Linked DNA regions of Homo sapiens. The protein of the gene in region 2 interacts with the protein of the main gene of each other region in a biochemical or structural test. Each region holds a gene or a part of one and is shown on either strand. Other genes may lie near its edges.

Region 1 (3,500 bases), on a different chromosome or scaffold from region 2:
GCAACAGGTTACGGTAATTTAAAGAAAATATAAACTTTAAGACCCTAACCTGTTATACTAGTACTATAATTATAGCCTTGTAATAACTTTAAGTCACTTCTTAATCTCAGTATTGGGAGTTTAAATTCTTCAAGGCCAGCTAGTCCAATTCCCATATTTTATACATAAGAAAACAGAAGGTTGTATAGGGGCGATATCTCATGCATAGTTGATTTCATAACTGGGAGAAGAATCCATTGCACAGCTGCTAAGTCTACATTTGTTTAATATGTCAGATAATTATAAAATCAGAACATAATTGTGATCAACTTGGCAGTCTATTCAGTATTAATTAAAAACTCAAAATGGGCCTTTTTTTTCATGAATCCAAAGTGTTAACTTAAAAATGAATCTGAACCCTTTCCTCTGTAGTTGGGACTATAAATTGATACCATTGGAGCAACCTTCTGGAAGGAAATTTGGCATTCCCTATCAAGATTAAAAGTATATATATTGTTTGATAGAATCATTTCCTGCTTAAAATTTATGTTACATAAATTTTAACAGCATAGGAATTGTATAAGAATGTTTATATTAGCATTATTTCAAGATGTCAATAACATTTATAAATAATTTAAAAATGTCCTAAATGTCTGTTGGTAGGCTAATAGTTAAAAGTCTAGTATTTTTATGCTGTGAATTACTGTGCAGTTGTTAACAGGTTTCAGGGTATCTATATTTACTTCATGAGCAGCAGCTGAGCATATCCTTCAGCTCCTGGAACCATGCGGTGGACCTTCTGGATTCAAAACCTAACTGCACTACTTTCTAGCTGTGACTCTTGGCGAATTACTTAAAGTCAACTATAAATTGGATATACTAGTAGTTCTCATGTTACAGGGGTACCATGAGAATTAAATGAGTTAACAGTTAGGCCCTAAATAAGCATTAATAAGCGCCACATAAGTGTTTGCTGTTACAATTATGTATTGACTTGGAAGAATGTTCATGATATAAAATTAAGTGAAAAAATAAGTTGCACTATACTATAGAATATGATTTATTTAAAAAACACATAGACAAATGTAGTTTTGTTTTCATTTTGCATGTGAATAGAAAAAGGTCTATAAGGATAGACATTAAACATGTTATTCCTGAGGGAGTGGATGACTTTTCTTTTTTACTTTAGACATTTTTGTATGGTTTTATTGTAAGAATCACTTTTATAATTTTTGAAACTTTTTTCTAAAAAAAGGAAGTAAATTTTTTCTTCTATTAAATAGTGATATAAATGTATTTTTGAATGTGATTTTTAGAGATCTACACATTTCATCAACAGAGTGTCTCATAATTAGATCCTGTGTCAAAACATTTGTTGATGGAAGGGCTGGGACTTGGTGGCTCACGCCTGTAATCCCAGCTCTTAGAGAGGCCGAGGCAAGTGGGTCACTTGAGGTCAGGAGTTCGAGACCGGCCTGGCCAACAAGGCGAAACCCATCTCTACTAAAAATACGAAAACTAGCAAGGCGTGGTGGCAGGCCTGTAATCCCAGCTACTGGGGAGGCCAAGGCAGGAGAATTGCTTGAACCAGGGAGGTGGAGGTTGCAGTGAGCCAAGACTGCCACTGCACTCCAGCCTGGGCAACAGAGCAAGACTCCATCTCAAAACAAACAAAACTTTTGTTGGCTGGGTGCGGTGTCTCATGCCTATAATCCCAGCACTTTGGGAGGCTGAGGCGGGCAGATCACCTGAGATTAGGAGCTTCAGACCAGCCTGGCCAACATAAGGAAACCCCATCTCTACTAAAAGTAAAAAACTAGCTGGGCATGGTGGCAGGCTCCTATAATCCCAGCTGCTGGGGAAGCTGAGGCAGGAGAATTGCTTGAACCTGAGTGGCAGAGGTTGCAGTGAGCCAAGATTGCACCACTGCACTCCAGCCTAGGTGACAGAGGAAGACTCTGGCTCAAAACAGACAAACAAACAAAAAAACTTTTGTTGGCAGAAGGTTGAAATTTAGGAAAATCTATAATAAATATATTTGTTTTTCTCCTAGCTTTGTAGCCTTAAGTCTTATTTCTTACTTTACAAAGTAAACCCGTAGGCTAGATCAGTGTTTCTTAAATCCAGTATTCCTAAACTGTGCACTGAAGTAAATCCTCACTTAATGTTGTCCATAAGTACTTGGAAACTGCAACTTCTAAGACCCCAAACACCTCTAATATTAAACATTGAAATAAATGGGTCCTATGCATACATTTAAGAAATACTAAAAACAAGATAATTACCCACTTATTTCAGTTCAGGATGGCAGGTGGCTGGAGCCTGTCCCGGCAAGTAGGGCACAAGATAGGCTGCCATTCCATTGCAGGTAGCATTTACAGACACACACACACCCACCCACCCACCCACATTCACTCAGACTGGGACCATATAGACATGCCAATTCATGTCAGTTCACCTAATGCGTGCACCTCTCTGATGTGGGAGGAAACTGGAGCATACGGAGAAAAGCCACACAGACATGGGGAGAACATGCAGGCTCCACATAGATGGTAGCCCTGGTGGGGAAATCAAAATTTTTTTCTCATCAAAATTGTGAAGAAATGATATTGAATGAAACTATGTTATGGAGGACCTGCCGTACTGTGGAGCACCATAGTAACTCACCTGGACACTATGCATTATTTGAGAAATTTTAATGGAAACAGCAATATTGGATAGCTGTGGGATATTTGACATCTATAGGACACTACTCAAACTACCAGTTTGAGATACCACACAAGAGATTGTGTTCCATTTTTTTTGATGACACTGTGTCTTCCAAACGCTAGGTTTTGGGAGTTTGCTGTGATAAAAAGCAAGTACTATGCAAAAATCAATTTGGAACAGTAAATGAAGGTGGTGGTGTCCAAAATGATTTCAAGATTTGAGAACTTGTGTAATATCTAGTAGGTACACACATCCTATTAAGTAGTTGTGGTAATTTAGTAATAAAAATATTTATTTCAATTTATACATATTTATTTTTCGATCTGCTACTAAGTTGGTAGGCTATAAATACTTTTTAGGTTGTGGACTGAACTACTTAGTAAATGGAACTGTTAGGTATTTTTTTGGCCTAGGGGTTCCATGAAAAAAATAACTGGCATACTGAGGGGTCTGTGAACTGAGAAAGTTTAGGAACCTCTTGAACTTTTGACCAGGACACCTATATATATTTTCCATGTTCTGTGCTCCCAAAGGTTGATTTTTTACATTTATCTTTATTTTTTATTTTTTTAAATAAAAAGAATAGATGTGTGTTATACGTGTATGTGTATACATATAATGAATCAAAAGTTTCACTTTTCAAAGTTTTACTTTAAACAGCCTCATGGCCAGGCGCGGTGGCTCATGCCTATAATGCCAGCACTTTGGAAGGCCGAGGTAGGCAGATCATTTGAGGTCAGGAGTTCAAGACCAACCTGGCCAACGTGGTGAAACACCATCTCTACTAAAAATACAAAAAAATTAGCTCGGCG
Region 2 (5,772 bases):
TGATCTGGGCGCAGCCGCCTCTCCCCAGGTGTGTCAAGTACCGTGACTCGAAGCCGGTCAGAAAAGGAGCGCCGGTTACACTGTTGCTGGGCAGCGACGAGCTTCTCGATCATGCCCAGTTGTTCCGGGCTGAGCTGGGGCAGGATTTGGGGGGGTGAGGAAGCCCTGGGGGGCAAGGATGTGGCATGAGCCTGTTCCTCCTCTTGCCGCTTCAGTTTCTTCAGGCGGATCTGTTCTTCTGACAGGACACCTAAGGACAGGGCCAAATATGAGGAAGGGAGCAGATGGGGAAAGGATGGGGCAAGGGGGTGGGGGAAAGACAGGAGGGAAGGATGGGGCAAAGGGGGTGGTTTGGGGCTCCAGAAAAGCAGACAGCACTGGGTAAAGGCAAGAAGATTTTTTTTTTTTGAAACAGAGTCTCACACTTGCTCAGGCTGGAGTGCAGTGGCATGATCTTGGCACACTGCAACCTCCACCTCCCGTGTTCAAGTGATTCTCCTGCCTCAGTCTCTTGAGTAGCTGGGATTACAGGCGCTCACCACCACACCCGGCTAATTTTTGTATTTTTAGTAGAGTCGGGGTTTCACTATGTTGGCCAGGCTGGTCTCGGACTTCTGATCTCAGGTGATCCACCCGCTTCGGCCTCCCAAAGTGCTGGGATTACAGGCATGAGCCACCGCGCCCGGTCAAGAAAGATACTGGGATCCATACTTAGGGATCAGTTAGCCCCTGCAAGTTCAGGCACCTGTTTTGGGTCACACCCTGGCCCCCTCTTTCCCCTCAGCCTCTTCCCCACTCCAGCCCCAGAAACTCACACTCCTCCCGCATGCCAGCCTGACGGCATTTGCGAAGCCGACACTCCTGGCACTTGCGACGCATGTAGGTGTCCATGGGGCAGTGGCCGCCACTGTGGCAGATGTAGTGCGCTCCCTTGATGACGCTGCGGCGGAAGAATCCCTTGCAGCCCTCGCAGCTCAGAACATTGTAGTGGAAGCCCGAGGCCTTGTCCCCACACACGCTGCATAGCTCGTTCCCCAGCATTTTGGGGGCTGGCCCCTTTTTCCGCTTTTGTGGACGGATCTCTGGATACAGGAAAGTGCTTCAACGCTCTCCCCCGAGGAAAAACATCATGTTCTCCCTGACTCAGCCACTGCCCTGGGCACTCAGTGACCTTCATTCCCTTCATTATACAAACTCCAGTCTCTCTTTTATGAGAAGAGTAGCCCTCATTTGCCAAGTGCCATTATGTTCTAGGTACTGTATGAGCCTTTTATATGCACTGATCCTTATGACAACCATAATTTTTATTTCCATTTTATAAACAAGGAAAGTGAGGCTCAGAAAGGCCTAGAGACAAAATTCACACTTAGATCAGTCAGATTTAGTTAGCTCTAAAGCCTCTGAACTTAACCATGAGATTATATATAAAGTAAAAACCCCCAAGGAACCTCTTCCAGATCCAGGACCTGGAATCTGGACCCCTACCTCCTCCAAACCCAGAAGCTCCTCACCTGTGGGTTCTGAAGGGGGCTCTGCCCTGGTGAGCAGGGCTGTGGGCTCTGCAGCCTCCAGCCCCACCCCTGCAGTACCCCCAGCAGAGTGGGGCATCCTGGCTTCCTCTCTGAGGATGCAGCTGCTGCCTCCCTGGGCCTGGCTGCTTGCATCCTGTGCGCCTGGCTTCCACAGCTCCACCGCAGAGTCTGAGCTCCAAAAGAGAGGCACAAGGGGGTCTCAGGCCCCATCCCGGCTCCACGGCCCAGCGTCCTAGCTGGGAAACTGCAAACTTATCCCCACCCTTAGAGGGCAGCAAAGTCCCAGCTCAGGCTTTGGGACCCTAGAGTCTGTGTGGGCTCTAGCTAGGACTAGTCACTTGTAGTTTCTTACATCTCAGGACCTTAAATGAAGATGTTAATCCTTGTCCCTTTGGGGGGCTGGAGTGTATGCATTTCAGAGATCAGATAAAACTCTTCAAAGCCAGAGCAGGGTAAGCACTCAGCTGGCCAACTCTCTAGCAGCAAATCCAGACTGGGGAGGACTGGGCGGGTGCCTGCAAGGGCCAGGCACTGGAACCAGGGGAGAGGTGATCTGGGCGGGAGGCAAGCACGACTAAGAATGACTCTGGACTGCTCTCTGGAGGAAGGAAGAAGGCAGGTAATGAAGGAGGCTGATTCCTACAGGAGGCGTGGAGCCTGCGGTCTGGGCTCAGGGGAGAGGGATGGAATGAAGCTTACCAGGAGGAATGTCAGGCACAGGGGCCCCCAGCCACAAGGACATCTCTTCCTGGAGCCCTGGTCATTACCAAGGCACTGTCCTGCAGGAAGGACCCAGATTATACTCTTCTAGAACTGGGCTCCTTTCTGGCCTCAGCTCCCTTCTCCACCTGATCCTCCCTTTTATCAATATCAACAATATCAGCTAACATTTACTTGCCATATATTAGCCTGTACTAAGGCTTTATTATATTACTATTATGTTTTTTAGAGACAGGTTCTCCCTATTTTGCCCAGGCTAGTCTAGGAATTCCTGGGCTCAAGTGATCCTCTCACCTGGGCCTCCCAAAGTGTGGGGATTATTGGAGTAAGCCACTGCGCCCAGCCTGTTATAAGGCTTTATGTGCTTTCCTCATAATATCCCTCTGAGGTCAAAACTATTAATTTTTTTTTTGAGATGGGGTCTCTCTATGTTGCCCAGGCTGGAACTCAGTGCTATTCACAGGTGCAATAATAGGACACTATCGCCTCAAACTACTGGGCTGAAGCAATCAGGTTTCAGCTTCCTGAGTATCTGAGATTATGGGCGCACGCTACTGCTCCTGGCTCAGGACTATTCTTAAACTCATTTTACAGATAAGCAAACTGAGGTTCAAAGAGATTAAGTAACTATGGTCACACAGTTAGGCGGCGGTAGAGTCAAGACTCCAACCCTCCTCTGACTCCAAAGTCTGGGCTCCCAGCCACCGTGCCGGCTTTTCTCCCCCAAAGTCCCCTCCAGGCCAGCAGGGAATGTTTGGGTGCATCTGCCCTGCTTCTCTTGGGCCCCTTCCCCCTCACTCCAACACTGAGGACAGCTCACTCCACCCAGTGAAACACGCTGCTTATTAGAGAACCTCGCTCGTGCCACTTTCCAGGGTCCCAGCACAAACCTGTCTCCAAGAATCTCCCCAATTCACATAGAGGACCTCCTCCCCTGAGCCCCTCATGAGTTATTCTGGGACCCAGAGTCCTGCTCCTGTCCCAAGCTTCCATCACCATCACCCCTCACTTCTCCCCAGAAACCCCCTTCTCAGATCCTTAGGACATTCCCCGACCCCACCCCAGATACACACACAGAGCCCCAGGCCACTGCTAAGGAGCAGACCCACCAAATCCCCAGGCCACCAGACTTCCTGGGTGGGCAGTCTCTGGAGCCCCCTTGCTGGGAGAAGAGGATGGTGCAGTTTCCTGTCCAGAAGTCTCGGTGGCCAGCCAGTGAGCTGGAGCTGAGCACAAGCAGGACCTGGAGCCCCAGAGAAGTAGCAATTTGGGGAAAGGCTGAGGGGAGGGACTGCCGAGGGGTCAGGCCACCCCTCCTTCCTGCCTGGTGACCACAGCCCTCCCCTCCTCACCCCCGCCCACAGGGCAGCTTCTCCACCAGGCTGGCTCCTCCCCAGCCGGCCACCCCCTCTCCCGCCACTCCCGCCCCCTACTCCCGGCCAAAACAGTGGCATTTCCCTGCAGACCAGCCAAGTTCCATGTCTCTCCCCTTCCTCTCCTTACCCAGCGCTCTTAGCAGCTCTTGCAAAAGGACTGCCTCCCAGGAACCCCCACCCCAATCCCAGCAGCCTCCAGAATCGTGTTCCCTCCCCTCCATAGGCACCTCGTGGAGCAAAGGTCCCAGCACGGCCCGGAATTGCGACACTGAGCCCCAGCGGCTTTCCCAGCCTCCCTCCTCCTCCCTTGCCTCTGGGAAGAGGCCAAGAAGCTCTCCCCACTAGCCCCAGGCCTCAGCCAAGCTGGTAGAAATCCAGGGGTGGAGAGAGGCAGGTGCTGGGCCTTCCAGGGAGTTTCTGAAAGTGGGTGCCCTGCGGGGGCCACAGATAAGAGAGGAGGCCAGGAGAGCCTTTGATAGGAAATCTGCTATGAGCAGTGGCAGGCCTGGGATAGGGGTGGAGGTGGCAGAAGGAAGACAGGCAACTCAGGTGGCAGCCCAGGATGGACCTGGGAAGGTATGCGGGTTGCCTCTTCTGGGGAACAACCCCATCTGAAGTGATGGCAGGCTCCAACCAGCAGCTACTGAGACTATAGTCATTCTTCCTACTCTGCTGCCTGGGGCATGAAATCCATCCCTGAAAGTAGACATCATATTTTATTGATTTCATCTCCCCCAACACCCCTGAAACAGGGCTGGCATAGATGTGGCAACAGAGTAGGTACTGTGTTCCTATTTGTTGAATGAATAACAAGAAAAATATAATATATTCTCGGCCGGGCGCGGTGGCTCACGCCTGTAATCCCAGCACTTTGGGAGGCCGAGGCAGGCGGATCACGAGGTCAGGAGATCGAGACCATCCTGGCTAACACGGTGAAACCCCGTCTCTCCTAAAAATACAAAAAATTAGCCGGGCATGGTGGCAGGCGCCTGTAGTTCCAGCTACTCGGGAGGCTGAGACAGAAGAATGGCGTGAACCCGGGAGGCAGAGCTTGCAGTGAGCCGAGATTGCGCCACTGCACTCCTGCCTGAGTGACAGAGCGAGACTCTGTCCCCAAAAAAAAAAAAAAAAGAAATATTATTCTCGTCTATCCCGTACTTATTAGCCCTAGTCAATTTTTTTTATTATTCCTTTTTTTTTTTTTTTTTACCTTTTTTGGGGTAGGGTCTCACTATGTTGCCCAGGCTGGCTTCACACTCCTGGGCTCAAGCCATCCTCCCACCTCAGCCTTCCAAAGTGCTAGGATTACAGGCACACGCCATCACAACTGCTGTAGTCAATTTCAACTCAGCATGTTGATTTAGCGTTCAGACTCTGGGCTCAGATTTTGGGTTCAAATCCTAAACCTCTTATTACCTATGTGATCTTGATTGAGCAAGTTACTTAACGTCTCTGAATCTTTGTTTCCCTATCTTTAAAATAAGAATAGTTGAGCCAGCAATGGTGTGTTGAAAAATAAATAGAACGGGCACGGTGGCTCACGCCTGTAATCCCAGCACTTTGGGAGGCCTAGGCGGGTGGATCACTTGAGGTCAGGAGTTCGAGACCAGCCTGGCCAACATGGTGAAACCCCGTCTCTACTAAAAATACAAAAGTTAGCCAGGCATAGTGATGCGGGTCTGTAATCCCAGCTACTCGGGAGGCTGAGGGAGGAGAATCACTTGAATCTGGGAGGTTGCAGTGAGCCGAGATTGTGCCACCACACTCCAGCCTGGGTGACAGACTGAGACTCCATCTCAAAATAAAAAAAAGAAAAAGAAAGAAAGATAAATAAAATAGGGATAATAGTAATTTTTACCACACAAGGTTGTTGTGGGATTGAAACTACAGATCATGCAGGGTGCGGTGGCTCATGCCTGTAATCCCAGCAGTTTGGGAGGCCAAGGCAGATGGATCACTTGAGGTCAGGAGTTCCAGACCAGCCTGGCCAACATGGTGAAACCCCATCACTACTAAAAATACAAAAAATTAGCCGGGTGTGATGATGCATTCCTGTAATCCCAGCTACTCAGGAGGCTGAGGCAGGAGAATCACTTGAACCTGGCAGGCAGAAGTTGCAATGACCCGAGATCGCGCCATTGCCC

The links. Proteins that work in one complex are often made in the same cells at the same time.
Region 1: the proteins of NR1H3 (region 2) and CEP350 form a complex in vitro, tested with the Homo sapiens proteins (one study listed by BioGRID).

Annotation. Positions count from the first base shown.
Region 1 is NC_000001.11:179,957,810-179,961,309, forward strand, and holds part of CEP350 (centrosome-associated protein 350), read left to right. Parts: intron 1-3,500. UniProt on the Homo sapiens protein: Plays an essential role in centriole growth by stabilizing a procentriolar seed composed of at least, SASS6 and CPAP. Required for anchoring microtubules to the centrosomes and for the integrity of the microtubule network.
Region 2 is NC_000011.10:47,255,719-47,261,490, reverse strand, and holds the start of NR1H3 (oxysterols receptor LXR-alpha), read right to left. Parts: upstream 3,496-5,772; 5' UTR 3,362-3,495; exon of another isoform or gene 2,312-3,361; 5' UTR 2,275-2,311; coding exon 2,232-2,274; intron 1,706-2,231; exon of another isoform or gene 1,701-1,705; coding exon 1,512-1,700; intron 1,083-1,511; coding exon 816-1,082; intron 251-815; coding exon 42-250; intron 1-41. UniProt on the Homo sapiens protein: Nuclear receptor that exhibits a ligand-dependent transcriptional activation activity.